2 separate regions of the Homo sapiens genome follow, and region 1 is linked to region 2. Evidence: fine-mapped expression QTL. Tissue or cell type: lung. Region 2 holds a variant in brackets; the other region holds the start of a gene. All regions are shown on one strand. Distances are from middle to middle.

What was found. PIP is the estimated chance that this variant, and not a neighbour inherited with it, causes the effect.
Region 1: ACOXL starts here. The variant in region 2 is the best candidate, but not a certain one, in a credible set for the expression of ACOXL in lung (TOPMed, PIP 0.77).

Annotation. Positions count from the first base shown.
Region 1 is chr2:110,727,914-110,736,320 of GRCh38, forward strand. It overlaps ACOXL (acyl-CoA oxidase like), which reads left to right and starts at 4,660. Exons shown (of 18, transcript NM_001142807.4): 1 at 4,660-4,861. LOC124906064 (a long non-coding RNA gene) reads right to left here and starts at 4,512. Exons shown (of 3, transcript XR_007087181.1): 1 at 4,441-4,512; 2 at 3,923-3,991; 3 at 3,448-3,722.
Region 2 is chr2:110,987,992-110,996,398 of GRCh38, forward strand. It overlaps ACOXL (acyl-CoA oxidase like), which reads left to right. Exons shown (of 18, transcript NM_001142807.4): 14 at 7,902-8,013. Among named protein-coding and RNA genes, the nearest start is that of ACOXL-AS1, 120 kb to the right of the region's middle. The variant A/C (reference allele first, on the strand shown) is at 4,485.

The DNA of each region.
Region 1 (8,407 bases), 260 kb before region 2:
ATTTACTGTTACCATCAAGTATTATGCACTACTGTACATAATTGTATATGTTACACTTTTATACAACTGGTAGTGCAGAAGTTTTGTGTTTTTATTAACCTGGGCTCTATGGATCTGATCACAGTAGTTTGTTGACCAGATCGCCAGAAACAAGTGAGTAATATGTTGGGCTATGACTTTACGACACCAATGATGTCATGCGGTGATAGGAATTTTTCAGCTCCATTATAATCTTACAGGACCAATGTCATATATGCAGTCTGTTGTTGACCAAAACATTGTTATGTGGTGTGTGACTGTACTTGTAAGAGAAAGTCCTGCGTAACACAGATAGTCCAGGGAGCCACATTTTATTCTCTCTCTCTCTCTGTGTATATTTTTCAGACTCATTTGGAGTCAGTTGCCCCTTTACCCCTAACTACTTGAATTTGCTCCTAATGACAAGAACGTTCATTTAAATATCCACAGTACAATAATCAAAACCATAAAGTCAACATTGATACAGTATTATATTATCCATGTTGCTTAAATTTCACCAATTTTCCCAATAATGTAGTAATCCCCTGCGTAGCAAGATCAAGAACCATTGAGCCTAAGCCCATGGGCTGAGCCCTGGCTGCACAATAGTAGAGTCACCTGGGGTGGAGAGGAGCTTTTAAAAACTACAGATGCCTACCTCTAGAAATTGGATCGATTGGCCAAGTCGTGTGTATTTGTGTGTCTGTGTTCATGGTTACTCTGATACACACTTAGTGTGGAAACCATTGATCTAAGCCAGTATATGGTCACTTCCTTTTATTTCTTTCTCATTTGTCAGTTCCCGTTAGTTCTGGGTGGGTATACTGGGTTGAATAGTGTTCCCTAAACGTTCATATCAGAAAGTGACCTTCTTTGAAAATAGGGGTTTTGCAGATGTAATCAAGTTGAGATGAGTCATGTTGGATTAGGGAGGGCACTAAATTCTACAACCAATGTCCTTCAAGAGGAGGGAGATTTGAAGACATAGAGACCCACAGAAAGGAAGGCCATGTGATGATGGGGCAGAGTGTGAAATGATGCTGCTATAAGCCAAGCAATACCAAGGATTGCTGGGAGCCAGCAGAATCTAGAAAAAGGCAAGGAAGGATTCTTCCCTAGAGCCTTCAAAAGTAACAAGGCGCTGCTGAACATTTCAGATTTCTAGCCTCCAAATCTGTGAGATAATTAAATTTCTGCCGTTTACCTAACCAAGTTTCTGGTAATTTGTTACTGTAGGAAAATAATATAGTGGTCAAGGGACCTAGTTAAGCCAAGATGGCCCAAGGGCAATTTTACTGGGTCTTTTGTCAGCTATTCTTTCCTAGTAACAAAAGATTCACAGGAGTGTGGTAGTCTTTAGCGTTGGCTGGTGGGGGCGCCTGGGAGGATTACACTTCTCTGGCTCTTAGAGAGAGGTGTGGCTTGTAAACAGATTCTTGAGGTATCTTCCAGGACAGGCTAGATTACGCTTGACACTTCTGGGTGTACATTTACAAGTCCGTGGGTGATCCAAACCGTGCTCTCATCCTCTGACGCAGAGACCAGTGATGCTTCAGATGGGGGTTGCTCAGATGGACAAGGCCCGGGAGTAAGATGGCTTACTGGGAATCCACAAAACCTATTTGTTACAGGTTTCAAGTGAGACTCTTGATTCTATTCTTGCCACAAGGGGCAAGGGAGTAGAGTCTGAGTTTCCTGAATTTTAATGGGCTTTTGTTACTAAATATTTCTCAGTTTCATCTTTTACTAATAGAAGTCGTGAAGCAGTTGCCTCTCCCAACCCTAAAAGTCCCTGAACTTGTGGACTCTATTCCCTTCCATCCCTGCTTGCAAACTGGTTAATTCTTTTGTAAGCCCATCTCTTTCTTATAATGTCTTGCCAAACACAAGCAAAAGCAGCCAACATGCAATACTAACCTTGTGTTTTCAGCAACTTCTCTTGGAGTGATAAGTTCCAAGTTAGGTCTGTCTCCTGTCAGTGGCAACTTTGTCAAATATTTGCCTCTTCATAAAAGGGACCATTTTCAATTTTGGTCAACAACAATGCTTTGGTCGACAGCATCCTCCTTGCCCCTCCCAGCCTCTAAGCCAATGTACCTATTTTAGTTTTTTATTTAATCAGCAACATTCTTTTAGTATCTTCTATGATTGGCTACGTAACAAATGACCCTCAAAAAAAATCTTAGTGGTTGGCCGGGTGCGGTGGCTCATGCCTGTAAACCCAGCACTTCGGGAGGTCGAGGTGGGTGGATCACAATCACCTGAGGTCAGGAGTTTGAGACCAGCCTGGCCAACATGGTGAAACCGTGTCTCCACTAAAAATACAAAAAATTGCCAGGCTTGGTGGCGGGCACCTGTAATCCCAGCTACTCAGGAGGCTGAGACAGGAGAATCGCTTGAACCCAGGAGGCAGAGGTTGCAGTGAGCCAAGATCATGCCATTGCACTCCAGCCTGGGCAACAAGAGCAAAACTCCACGTCAAGAAACAACAACAACAACAACAAAAATCTTAGTGGCTTCTAAGAACAGAGGCCTTTCTTTTTTCTCACTCAAGCAAACACTCACTTGGAAGTTAACTTAGTAACCTATCTTTTCAGTTTATAGGTCTCCGGATCAAGAGGAGCCACATCCTGACTTGATGCAAGGACCACTCTGTATCCCCCAGGGGCCTCAGACTTGATGTTGTGGAGGTGTGGGGCTTTGGCTGCTTCCCTGGAAGGATGGAGAGTATATTTTGCCTGTGGAAGGGAGAGTGTGACCAGAAGGGCAGATTGAATAGTCACTAGCTCTGCTTACAGATGATTTTGGGTGTTGACCTCCTGGGCATGTCCAGGGTGGTACCTCCCTTCCCCCATCGAGACAGGAGTGAGCTGCTTTGTCCAGTGGATTGTGAGTAGAAGTTATGTGTGTCTCTTCCAGCTGGAAGCTTTAAAAGCCAGTGTGGCCACACAATCATGGCTGTTCTGTCAGCCAGGACCTGGACCGAGGGGACATGGAACAGAACCCCCAGGTAGCATGAGTGAGAAATAAACTCTTGTCTTTTTAGGCCCTAAGATTTGAGGAAGTGTATGTGAAGTCGTTTCGGGGTTGTTTGTTACCACTACACTATTTTGGCTGATATAGAAGGAAATACTCCTCTTCTGCTTTGCACAGGGTGGTGCTTGGAGCTGCAGCATCCATCTTACAACTGGTAGAAGACAAGTTAAAAAAAAAAAGGTAACGATTACATATAGAGAAAGGATGGCGGATGGTGGAGCAGAAAGATGCAAAGGACCTGGGTCCCCAGGGTAGAGCCATCAAATTCACCCCTGGGGCTTTCCTACCACCAAGCTTCCTGTGATGTGAGAAAACAAAGCCCCTTTTATCATGGATGACTGGGTATTATTACTCGCAGCTGCACAGGTGTGGTAGACAGAGGAATGACTCGCCAAAGGTGCTCATGTTTTAATCCCTAGTACCGGAGAGTGTGTTTCTGATATGGCAAAATGGACATTGCTGGTGTGATTAAAGTATGGATCTTGTGGTGGGAAGATTATTCCCATTGACCATGGATTATTCCCATGGGTCCCATGTAAACAAGTCCAAGGGAGGCAAGAAGGTCAAAGTCAGTAGAAGATGGAACGATGAAAGCAGAGCTTGAAGTGATGCATTTTGAAGACAGACGAAGGGGCCAGGAGCTAAGAAATGCAGGCAGCCTCTAGGAGCTAGTAAAGACAAGGAAATGCATTTTTCCCTGGAGCTGTGAGAAGGAACCCAGCTCTGCCAACACCTTGATTTTAACCCTGTAAGTCCTATTTTGGACTTCTGACTTCCAGAAATGTAAGAGAATAAATTGGTGCTATCTTAAGCCACTCACTTTGTGGGAATTTGTTACTGGAAACGAATACAGATGGCATCCACTAACCTCACGACAGCAGACCACACCATCATCTCCCCAGCAAAGTAGCCTCTGGAAGGGAACGGCTAACATTTCCTTGAGTATTTAAAAGGAGAATCAACAAGGTATATGAGAATTAGGGAGCAGAAAGGAAGGAACATTTTCCACTTAGGTTATAACTCATTTTCCTCCAGCCACAACAAAAAAAGGAGTGTCCTGGGAAATGAGTATCGTGTTCCGGTCGATCACCTCGTCATGAATGCAGCTTCCAGCTACCCTGGACTGCAGTGCTGTAGACCTGGGACGCCTTTAGATTACCGTGATATTAGAGTTCACAGTAATGCCCAGTGCGGGGAAGAGGTGAGATACAGCTGAGGAGGGGCCAGAGCTGGAGCCAGGCTATCTTGGGTCGTGGGGGTCAGGCAAAGTGGCTGGCCGGGAGATCTGCTGAGTGGGTCAGCCGGTCAGTCCTGAGCAGCCGGGCCTCTGGTGCCCAGGTCCACGTGACTGGCACCCTTTCTAGGGGTCTAGTACTTGTTTCTTACGGCTCACAAATCTTGAGGGACAGTTGATAACTGGAGGGTAGAGTTTTCGCTTCCTCGGAAGGGCAAGGGGAGGCCACCGTAGAAGCGCCCGCTCGCGCCGGACCTCCCGCCCGGGAAGCCAGGGCAGGGCGGGGCCGGGGAGGGAGGGGAGAGGAAGGTGAGGAGGGAGGAGACGGGCCGGGAGGGGTGGAGAGGGAGAGGGCGTGCGCCTGGGGCCTCACCTGCTGGGAGCTGGAGGAGGCGCGGAGCGAAGCCGGCCCTGCCAGCCACGCGGAGAAGCAGAGGCAGGTGAGCGCGATGCAGCCGGCGCCGGGTCTGGGGCTCGGGGACTCCTCCCTGCACCGCTACCTGGACGGCGACTTCTGGAGCCTCAAGAACGAGCTGCGCGGACTCCTCGGCGGCGCCCGCTCTTCCGGCAAAGGTACCGCGCTGCGGCCGTCGCCCCTGCCCGCGCCCCCGAAGCCGCCGAGCGTGTCCCCTCGGTCCCCGGAGCGTCGCTGCGGACAACGCCCTGGCGAGGGCGAGGTGGGGTGTGCGCCGCGCCTGAGAGGCGGGTCCCTGCCTCGCCGCAGGTGACGGGCTCCCCTCCCCAGGTGTGTGGGCGCAGCCGGCCGCCGCCGACCTCTTCGGCCCCCTGAGAGGTGCCCTCTCCTCCCGAGCTCCCTCCCCCACGAAGAGTCGGGTGCAGGGCTGGGCCCCGCGGTGACAGGCGCGGTGTCTACGAAGACCGTGTGGCTGGAAGATCGGCCTTGCTGGTTTGTTGAACCTGTTTCTTGAGTCCCCGCCCCGCGATGTCCCACCCTTGGTGGGGAGAAGGGGACAGAAAACCGCGATGGGATGGGCGCACAGGGATGGAGTGGCCCTGTCCAGGGCGTGTCTGGGCGTCGGGGTGGGACAGGCTTACAGGACCCCCTCGGAGTGCAGGTGTGCGGAATGGGCAGCTTCAGCGGGGCGGTTTGGTTATAAGAAGAACTCAGGTCCTCGATGTCATCCGATGCCAGGACAGCCCTGAGAAGCAGGCAGAGGGTTGAGTGCTTGAGCTGCACTGGAGATAGAGAGATGGTTCAGTCACCGGACAGTCAGGACCAGAACTCGGCATTCGTGTCTCCTGTGGGCTCTCTTTCTCATACCCATTTCAAGCAGTCTGAAAAGCCCAGTTGGAGGCATGCTTTGGAGTTCTAGCTTAAGAAAGGCCCTATTAAAAATGTCAGTATGTGCCCGTGGAGGATTAATTGGTTAGCCATGCCCACTTAGCCCTCGTTTAATTTATTTTGCGGAAATGAGAGGGAAGGAGATGGCTTGAGTGAACGTCAGGCTGTCCTTGGAGAATCTGGGGTTCCTGCACTGAGGTTACCTAGTGGGGAGTTGGGGGCGTTTGAAAGTTGAAAAGTGAGAAGTGTGGGATGGTGGGTATATCCATCAGTGTCTCGCCGACTTCTCTTTCCCTCTCTCTCATACATAGTTCTTTAAGTTATGGTTCTCAAAGTGTGGTACAGGGAGCCCTGGGGGGACCCAAGAGCATTTCAGGCGGTTCATGAGTACAAACTGTTTTTATAGTAATACAAAAAAAGTTATTAGCTTTTTCACTCTCATTCTCTCACTAATGTACAGTGGCAGTTTCCAGAGACCACATGATGTGTAGTATTCCAGCAGAAAAAATATAGAAGCAGACATGAGAATACAGCTGCTTTCTATTAAGACAGACAGTAAAGGGATTTGTAAAAATATAGAACGATGCTACTCTTCTTGCTAACTTTTTTTGTTTTGGAAAATAGTTATTTTCATAAAATACACTAATAGATTTATTAGTTATTTTCAAATGAATTAATAAACATTTGAAAACTTTTCTGTTTTAATTTCTAATACGGGAAATATCAGTGGATATAACCCACCCAAATAAAAGCTCTTTGGGGACCTCATAATTTTTTTTTTTTGAGACGGAGTCTGACTCTGTTGTCCAGGCTGGAGTGCTGTGGTGTGATCTCAGCTCACTGCAACCTCCACCTCCTGGGTTCAAGCGATTCTCCTGTCTCAGCCTCCGGAGTAGCTGAGATTACAGGCACCCACCACCACGCCTGGCTAATTTTTTGTATTTTTAGTAGAGATGGGGTTTCACCGTGTTGGCCAGGCTGGTCTTGAACTTCTGACCTCAAGCGATCCGCCTGCCTCGGTCTCCCAAAGTGCTGGGACCTCATAATTCTTAACAGTGCAAAGAGTTCCTAAAATCAATGTTTGTGAACGGCTGCTTTAAGTCATACTGAGTTCAGTCGCATCTGATTAGACACACATCCCCTCCTATATTCCTCAGTCTTTTCAGTTTGTTCCTGGGCTATCACCTCTTTGTCTTTCAGTTTAGATAACTGCAGTTTAAAAGACGGAACAAAATTGTAATAACCAAACTACTGATTTGAGGCAAGCAGAAGGGACTTCCTTGTGAATTCCATAGGGACAGAGGAAAGGCATGCCTGGATAAGGGGTCCAGTGTGGCAGTTTATTTCCTGTGTGACCATTGTCCTGGATTTTTTTTTCCCCCTTATTGACTTACATTTGTTCATCTACAGAATGCAGATAATATCAATGCTGCTGTGTTATGAAGCTTGAATGAAAAACTGTTGCGTGGGCATGGAGTAAACACTGGTTGTGGTGGGATACCAAAACACACTTGCACGCAAAGGGAAAAGCAAAAATCCCATTACCCTGACAAACACTTTTCCATTCTTTCCAGTTCTTGTTTATTTACTTTATAGTTCAGAGTTGTAGTAATGGCATGAACAACATTTCATATTTTTTCCCCAAATGGTTAAAGATTCTGATATCTATCTATTTGAAAGTTCATATTGTACTATCAGATTTTACCTTAGCCCATGTTAGAAGATGGCGATCTTGATTTCTGGATGTTTTAACATTCTCCTAATGTAAAATGTTATAGAACATTAGGAGATGAGAAATAAAACTTCCTCCTCTCTGAGGCAATGCCAGATCTCCTGTGGCTTGTCCCCACCTTACCCCAAACAGGTCTTTGCAGTTAAAGTAGGTGTAGGGGAGAGGGTTGTGGCAGCGTAGTGGTGAGTGCTGTGTGTACATAGTGAGAAGTTTGTACAGGGCCAGGCAATCCCAGGGCATAAGAGCTCAGGAAACAGTTTTCCTCCAAAAGAGGTTGTGCAACTTCCTACACACACTGGGTGGCCACTCTCCTCAGAGGAGGAGTTCATTCCCAGGGTGCTGGCCATCGGCTCCCAGGGGCAATGTAGGCACAGCCCAGGTTCCTCTTCTAAGGAGTGACTTTCTCTCTCCCAAGGATGAGCCTGCTGGGCTAAGTCCTCAGACTCCGGGAGCATCCTGGCTGCTGTGCCCGCCCCTGTCCTATTGTGCATCTGACCAGGTGTGCTGTTTGTTGTGACAGCAGGAGCATTCTGGGTGACTGGCGGCTCCTCATTGGGATTTGCAGGGAATGTTAAAAAGCAACATCTGAAATGAGATAAGCTTTTGAGATTTTTCTGAGTTTGTTTATTGGTGAAGGGAAGCTCTCTCAGGAGAGGCTGGCTGGCAGAGGTAGGTACAGCACACACCTCTCACCCGGAGAACTGAGAAAGCCCCCCCATAGGATTCTGTTCTCTCAGGGCCTTCTCACACCCTTCTTCTCCCACTTGTAGCTCCTGGCTGCTTCCTTCTCCCTTTCTTTCTCTTTGTCCCCTTCTCTTTCCTTCCCTAGAGCAATGCACATTTCTCTTCCTAACCTTTTCATGTGTTTAGCTTTTCCCCATGAGTATTTCATGAACACGTTCTCACTAGGAAGAGTCAAATAATTTGGACAACTTGAAAGTTTCCTAAAATGTTTCCTCCTACAGCCATTTTTTTTTATTGTGGCAAAATACACACTATATAAAATTGACCATTTAACTGCTTCTGAATGTACAACTCAGTGGCATTAAGTGCGTTCACATTGTTGTGCAACCATCACCACTGT
Region 2 (8,407 bases):
ATCACCATGGACACCCATATATCCATAGGACCTCCACTTCAGACGCAACTGAAGCAAACAGTTCATGGAGCAGTGGCTACCTTCCTATTTATTACTAGTGATGCTCTCTGATATTTTTAAATTTTATTTTTAAAGAATACTGATCTTAGCAGAATATTGATTTCAGCCAGACATGGTGGCTCATGCCTGTGATCCTAGCACTTTGGGAGGCCAGGACAGAAGGATTGCTCAAGCCCAGGAGTTCGAGACCAGCCTGGGCAATATGGTGAGACCTCTGTCTCTACAAAAATAATACAAAAATTAGCCAGGCGTGGTGGCACATGCCTGTGGTCCCAGCTGCTTGGGAGGCTGAGGCAGGAGGATCACTTGAGCTGGGAGGCAGAGGTTGCAGTGAGCTGAGATCATGCCACTGCACTCTAGCCTGGGCAACAGAGTGAGACCTTGCCTAAAAAAAAAAATACTGACCCCAACCCTTAAACTGATTTTATGACCTTTTAGTTATTTGCAATCTGTTGTTTGAAAAACACTCCCCTACGGTATATATTACCTAGGAATGGAATTGCTGTGCTATGGAGTAATGTTCAACTTTACTAGATAGTGACAAATTATTTTTCAAGGTGGTTGTATAAATTTACACCCCCATTAGCAGCATGTATCTTGTGGGGCCTTATTCTGTTCTCACCAACCCTTGGTACTATCAGACTTCTTAATTTTTGTCAATACAATATAAGAAATGATCTCTCACCCTGACTTTAAACTGAATTTTCTCAATTACTATTAAGGATGAGCATGATTTCACATGTCTGTTTGCCATTTGTATTTCTTCCTGTGTAAAATGCCTGTTCATGTTTTTTGCCTATTTTTATTGTGTGTGTGTGTGTGTGTGTGTGTGTGTGTGTGTGTCTTGTTCTTATTGATTTTTAAGGGCTCTTTATCCTTTGTTGTTACAAATGCTATAATTATCTTTTCTATGTTTGTGGCTTGTCTTATATTTTCTTTATCGTGTGTTTTGATTGAGATAAATTCATTAATTATAGTCGAACTTATCAATCTTTTCTTTTATATCCAACACTTTTTCTGCATCATCTATTCTGAGGTCATGAAATCTATATCTTTAAAACTTTGAAAGTCTCACCTTTTACATTTAATTATTGAATCCATACACATTTTTGTGTATGGTTTGAGGAAGGGATCTAATTTTATTTTTCTCCTTTGTGGACAGTCAGTTGTTCCGGCACCGTTTACTGAATTGGACATTCTTTTCTAGTAACCTGCAAGGTCTCTTTGACATTTATTAAATCTCCGTCTATTTGAGAGTTTGTCTTGGGGCTATTTTGTTCCTAGTCTCTTTGTGTATTTTTGATCCAACAATACACTGTTATAATTACTCTGGCTTTATAATAAAATATTACTATAGTATTATTATATCAGAAATGTAATTCAGAATTGGGTTGGCTGTTCAGAATCTTTGGCCATTTCATGTAAGTTTTGTAATAAGTTTGTCAAGTTTCTTAGAAGTAAAACAAAGGATGAATATTGTAGGATTGTACTTACATGACATACCTAGAGTAGTCAAATTCGTAGAGATAGAAAGTAGAATATTGGTTCCCAGGGGCTAAGAAGAGGAGAGAATGGGTAGTTATTGTTTCATAGGTAGAGTTTCAGTTTGGGAAGATGAAAACGTTGTGGAGATGAATAGTGGTAATGGTTGTACAACAGGGTGAACGTACTTAATACCACTGAACTGTACACTTACAAATAGTCAAAATGGGCTGGGCACAGTGGCTTATGCGTGTATCAGCACTTTGGGAGGCTGAGACGGGTGGATCACCTGAGGTCAGGAGTTTGAGACCAGCCTGGGCAACATGGTGAAACCCCGTCTCTACTAAAAACATAAAATTAGCCAGGCATGGTGGCACATGCTTGTAATCCTAGCTACTTGGGAGGCTGAGGTAGGAGAATTGCTTGAACCCAGGAAGCGGAGGTTGCAGTGAGCCAAGATTGCGCCATTGCACTCCAGGCTGGGCAACAAGAGTGAAACTTCGTCTCAAAAAAATAAATAAATAAAATTAAAATGGTAAATGTTTTGTTATTTACCATTTGTTATTTGTTATCACAGGCCTGCAAACCTGCTGAAAGTTTCTTTGAAAATATATTAAATCTATATACTTGCAGAAAATTGACATATTTATAAAGCAGGTCTTCCTCTCAAAGATTTTCATCTTCAAAGTGTCCTTCAGGGTTGTATAATTTTTTCCATACATACTATATCCTTTCATAGATTTATTACTGGTTACTTTATAATTTTGTTGTTAAAAGAATATTTTTAAATTATGATTTTTGTAGTTAATGATTTATTATACATGCAATTGGCTTTTGTTTATAAATCTGACTGTAAAGAAATTTCTTTTAAATGTGTCTGTAGATTCTTTGGAGTTTTTTTCCATAGACACTAATTTGCAAATTATAAATTTTTATTTCTTCCTTTCCAACTGTTATTTATTTTATTCTTTTCATGTCTCACAGCAAGAGCTAGGACCACCAACACAATTTGAATAGAAGCCATCTTACAAGGTGTTCTTTTGTCTTATTGCTGATTTTATTTATTATGTTAGAGACAGGGTCTTGTGCTGTCTTTCAGGCTGGAGTGCTGAAGTTTTTGATAGACACACTTTACTTCCTAAAGAAGCTTATACATTTTAAATGTATTTTTGTCATTACCAGATTAATTTTATCAAATGATATTTTTCTGCATCTGTTGAAACGATCATATATTTCTTCTTCATTTTGTTAGTTTGGTGAATAATTTTTGCCGATCATCTAATGTTAAACTACCCTTGCATGCTTAAGAAACACTCAATTTTGTTATGCTGTATTATCATATTTATATTTTCTTGGATTTGGCTTGTTAGTATTTTTTAGGGGGAGGAGATTGTATATTTATGGTTTTCCATTCTTGTACATGCCTGATTTAGATTTATGTCAAAGTTTTACATCTCTCATAGAGTTATTTTGGGGGGAGTGGTTTCTTATTCTGTGAAAGAATTTGATAATTCATCAAATTTGAAAATAATCCGGGCTTGGCGAGTAAACTATTTAATTAGCTTAATTGTTTAAAGCCTAGGCTTTTCTTTTCATGTTAGTTTAAGTAAATTGTATTTTTCTAGGAATTTATTCATTTGGTTTTGATTTTATTGGTATAAGTTTTTATGTGTACTATTCTATCATTACCTTTTTAACTTCTGCTAGATCTGTAGTTGTGTCTCATTTGTCATTCCTAAAATGCCTTCTTATGCTTTCTCCTTTCTTTGTTGTTGTTGCTCAGTCTCATTCAGATGTTTGACTGGTTTATTGTTATTTTTCAAACAACTGATTTTTCCCTTTGATCCTTTGTGTCATACCTTTCTTTTCTATTTCATTGATTTATGCTCATGAATGTATTGTCTCCTATATTATACTTTTAGAGAGCTTGTTATGCTTTTTTCTTTTGTGTATTTTTTAATTATTATTTTTTTGAATGAGATTATTGGTCCCTCAAACCAAAAGTATTGAACTAGTTTCTAAGGAAACTATTCATTAGAAAATAGAATCTCACAATCCTGATTAAACACATGGAAAACACAGTAAATGATGGCCTGGGATTCTTTATAGCCATTGGGATGACGTGAAATTGAGAAATCTGTTATCTGTCTTTTTTTTTCCTTTTTTTATTGCTGCTCAGGACCCTGTTTATTCAAACTGTGGTCCATCTTAAAGCTTGAAAACACGAGCTCCTACATGTTAGGACTGTTTCACTGGAGTCTCTGTTAGTTTAAATGTCTCCATTTGTCTTCATACTAGAGCTAGTGGGTCTTCCTAATATTTCTAGCTGTTGAGTAGGACGTTTACAGTATGGTTAGCTTTTTCCTCCAATGTATTAGTTTGAAAATTGTCCAACATATTAAGGAGTTGAAAGAATAGTACGACTCCCCACCAGAATCAGTTCCATCCTTGCAGGAAACTTGTTCCCCAACTGGCCACAAATCATCTGCCCTTTCGTTTCTTTTTCAGATAGCAAAGCAGGGCTTGATTCCATCATTTTGGAAGCACGACACGCTCTCACCCATATGCAAATCTATATCCCTAGCACATTTTCCAGCACAGAGTTGAGATGTGCCAAAGGCAGTATTCCAAATGTAAATATTTGGAAAGTTCCAGTCCATTTATTTTTGTCTCAGTTATTAACCTCCAAAACAGTGTACATCTGTCTCCCACACATCTAGGTTTTACTGATTCAGTCCCTGTGTTTATCTACTTAAATCCCGAAACTTTACTTACTCTGACTTTATATGAAGGAAAGCCTTTGTCATCAAAGTGTTTTCAGCACTCACTGTGTACCGGGCACTTCTCTAAGCATTGGTGATCAGCAGTTACTAGGGGCTCTGTCTTCATGGAGTCTGCACTCCGAGAGCAGTAGGATAGTAGGCATAGTGACAGCCCTGAGA[A/C]AGGTACTCTTGAGCAGGTGGGGACCTGAGGAAAGATGGGCTGAGAACTTCCTGGTACCCTTAAATCCCTCCAGTGGGCACCCATTTGTCCGCACAGTAACTACCCCTCATTTCGGCCTGGAAGGAGTCAGTCATGGTACTGAAAAGCCTCCATGGGACGAGGTAAGGCAGATGGAGCATGGCAGGGAGAGGAGCCCTGAAAGGAAGTGGCTTTGAAAGGGGGTTGTACCTGGCTCTGCAGATAGCCCCATTCAGCTCTGGCTTGTCCCTGCAAGGGTTGTCTCTCTTCCTCCTGCATGGTAGCCTGCCACTGGGGCCCCTCCCACTCTCATCAGCCTGTGGACCTTTAGGAGGTGGTGGTAGATGTCCAGGAAAGTCAAGATTTTGCCTTGCACCCAACGTGTTTTTCTACATTATGCTGTAAAATTTACAAATATTCAGCAAAGTTGAAATAATTTTACAGGAAGCATTTATGTACAAACCATGGAGATTCTATCAACCTATTACTGTACCTGCTATATCACTATCATATCTATGGATCTGTGTATGGAACTCACCCATCCATTCACCTTCTCTTTTTGATCCATTTCAAAATAAACTGTAGACATCAGCACATTTCTAAATAATTTAGCATGAGCGTCATTAACTACAGTTACATATTTAGTTATAGTTCTTCTTATGTTGAATTTACGTACAATAAAATGCACAAATCTTAAGTGTACATTCACTGAGTTTTGACACATGCATAAACCTATGTAACCAAACTCATATTAAGATACAGATCATCACTCCAGAAAGTTCTTTCATGCCCCTTCTTGGACAATCTCACTACGCAGATACAGCCACTCTTCTGATATTTTCCCACCACAGATTAGTTTTTCTATACTAGAACTTCACATAAACAGAACCAGGCAGTATGTACTCTTTTGTAGCTGCCTCGTGAAATTGGCATAATACTTTTTGACATTCACCCATGTTGTTGTGTGTATTAGTTTGTTTCTTTTCATTATTGTAGTATTTTACTTTATGGATATAGTAGAATCATTCTCTTATGGATGAATAGACACCTGGGATGTTTGCTGTTTCTCACTTCTGTGAGTAGAACCGCTATGAGCATTCTTGTATAACCTTTTTTGTGAGCATATGTTTTTATTTCTCTTAGGCAATTAGTAGGAGTGAAACTGCTAGATCATAGGGTATGTGTTCATTTATTTTTATCAGAAACTGTGACAACATTTTGCAAAGAGATTTCACCATTTTACACTCCCATCAGCAAGCATGAGAGTTCTGGTTTCTCCAGATCCTGGGCAACACTTGATGTCAGTGTACTTAATTGTAGTCATTCTGGTGGATGTATAATGCTACCTCACTATGGTTTCCGTTTGCATTTCCCTGATGTCTAATGATACTTATTTTAATTTAATTTAAACTTTATTTAAAAATAGAGTCATTTGGATCTTCTTGTAAAATACACAGTTACAAGGAGGTTGCCTTTAGCAATGTTTCTATTTTTAAAGAAAGTCTGCACACTCTACTGCACTGGGCAGGCTCCTAGACCTACATGACATGTGACTCACATGACTCAGCGAGTGGGTGAGATCCCCTTCCTGCAGCACGTGCAGTTCACAATCTCAGGTGGACAAACATGTTCTACAGTCTGAATTCCAGGGAAGCTAATTTCCAATATCAGCCCCTGGAATGACTAAAACATACTTTTCAATAATATATGAAAGCTTTTTACATCTTTCATTAAATAGACTGAGGCAGAAACCCAAACTTCTTAAAGCCCAGATTCAGAATAAACATTGACATCTTTTAAATGTCCCGGTAATTGGCATGTAAATACTTTCCTCTTCCCTGTCTAAATGGAGGGTGATTATTAATTCAGCACTTGGCATCTCAAAAGCACTGCGTCAATTGCTTCTTAACGTTTCTCTCGTGCCTTCTGATTGAGCAACAACAGCCACTTGGGTTTTTTTTTAGTTAATATGAATTTAAGTTATTTGAGTCTTGTAATAACTTACTTCCTCAGGAAGTGGGGAAAGGGGAGGGCAAGAGGTGGCTGTGCTATGGGAAACCCTAAGTGTGAATTAACCCTTCCCCTGGTTGTCTAGGTTATCTAAAGGTTCATGGTGGGTCCATAAAATTGGCATGAAATAGAGTTTCATGATGAAAAGCTCACGAGCTTTTAATTGTGAACTTGGTTGTTTTGAGTCTGTGCTTACCTCTCTTAACTCCTCTGTGCCTCAGTTTCCTCATTTGCCAAATGGGAAAGATGGGAATTGCTGCCTGCTGAAGAAAGCTACCATCTCTGTAGCACATCCTCCCCTGTGCTTGCACACAGCCCTATCACTTCCCTCCAGGGTGCCTCTTGCTTTAAATGCTGATGTTCCCCAACAAAACCTGAGCTTGACTGAGTTCTGCCTGTGTGACCTTGAGCAAGTTACCAAATCTTGCTAAGCCTCAGTTTCCTAAACTCTACATTGGATAATTATAGTATTCTAGAATTATCGAGAAAATTGAATAATTCACAGCAGATAATGAACACAATTCCTGATATATAATATATTTAATAAGTATTATTAATTGATAAATATTTTGTAATAGATATATTTGATTATTAATATCCAATTATAATAATTATAATAAATGCCCAGCAGTGGTTATTATAAACTCACTTGATAGAGCTGTATAGTGGTTGAGTTATTATTATAAACTCACTTGACAGAATTGTATAATGGGGGCCAGGCACAGTGGCTCATGCCTGTAATCCCAGCACTTTGGGAGGCTGAGGTGGGCAGATCACTTGAGGTCAGCAGTTCAAGACCAGCCTGGCCAATATGGTGAAACCCTGTCTCTACTAAAAATACAAAAATTAGCCAGGCACAGTGGCATGTGCCTGTAATCCCCACTACTCAGGAAGCTGAGGCATGAGAATCACTTGAACCCAGGAGGTGGAGGTTGCAGTGAGCCGAGATCGTGCCACTGCACTCCAGCCTGGGAAACAGAGTGAGACTCTGTCTCAAAAAAAAAAAAAAAAAAAGAATTGTATAATGATTGAGTTATACATGAATTGTATAATGGTTGATTATACTTGACAGAAATTACATTGCTGTTAACTAAGAAAGACTATGTAAAATATTGAACACTACTTATAATACAATAGTAAGTGGAACAATTAGGAAACCAAATCATCTCTATACCACAAGGACAACCACCTAGAATAAACTAGAGCTAAGATTACCGAAAAGAATTATGAATACAGTCAGTGAGAGATGGGATGGGGAGATTATGTCTATTGACACTATTTTTCTACAGAAAAAAATAGTTTTAAAAAACAAACCTACTCTATTTCTTTCAAATGAAATTCTTGGTGAGGCCAAAATAATAATGATGGTCACCGTGATTTTCTTTCAGTTTCCTGGCATTTAACATGGACACAGTTGATGATCTCGCCTTTCTGTTGAAAGCAGTGAAATTTCGTGAAAGGGTTCTTCAGCGGGGTTTGGTGGCCAGAATTTATTATAAGGTAAAGATACACTGTGTTATATTTTTCCTTTTGACATGTGTTTAAGGGATATCCTTGCTGGTGAACTATCTGTTAAGTTTAGTAGAGGATGAGTCAGCCTAATGACAAGCTCCTGGAAGCGGCTAGAGTTCCTACGGGCCATTTTGCATGATACCGTTGCTTGCTCTAGAGGCCAGGATGCTTCTGTTTAACCCCCTTTATGTCATCTTGTAGAATTCCACCTGCAGGCATCATGTGGCTGCCATGGGAGTTGATGAGTGGTGTAATTTTCAGCCCTTATCAAAGTTGAAAAATCATTGTTTTATGTGTATAAAGAGTACATCGTTCTCTAAGACAGGGAGGGGAACTGCCTCAGGCATATGTAAAAATTAACATTGGGTTAGTCTAAGATGCA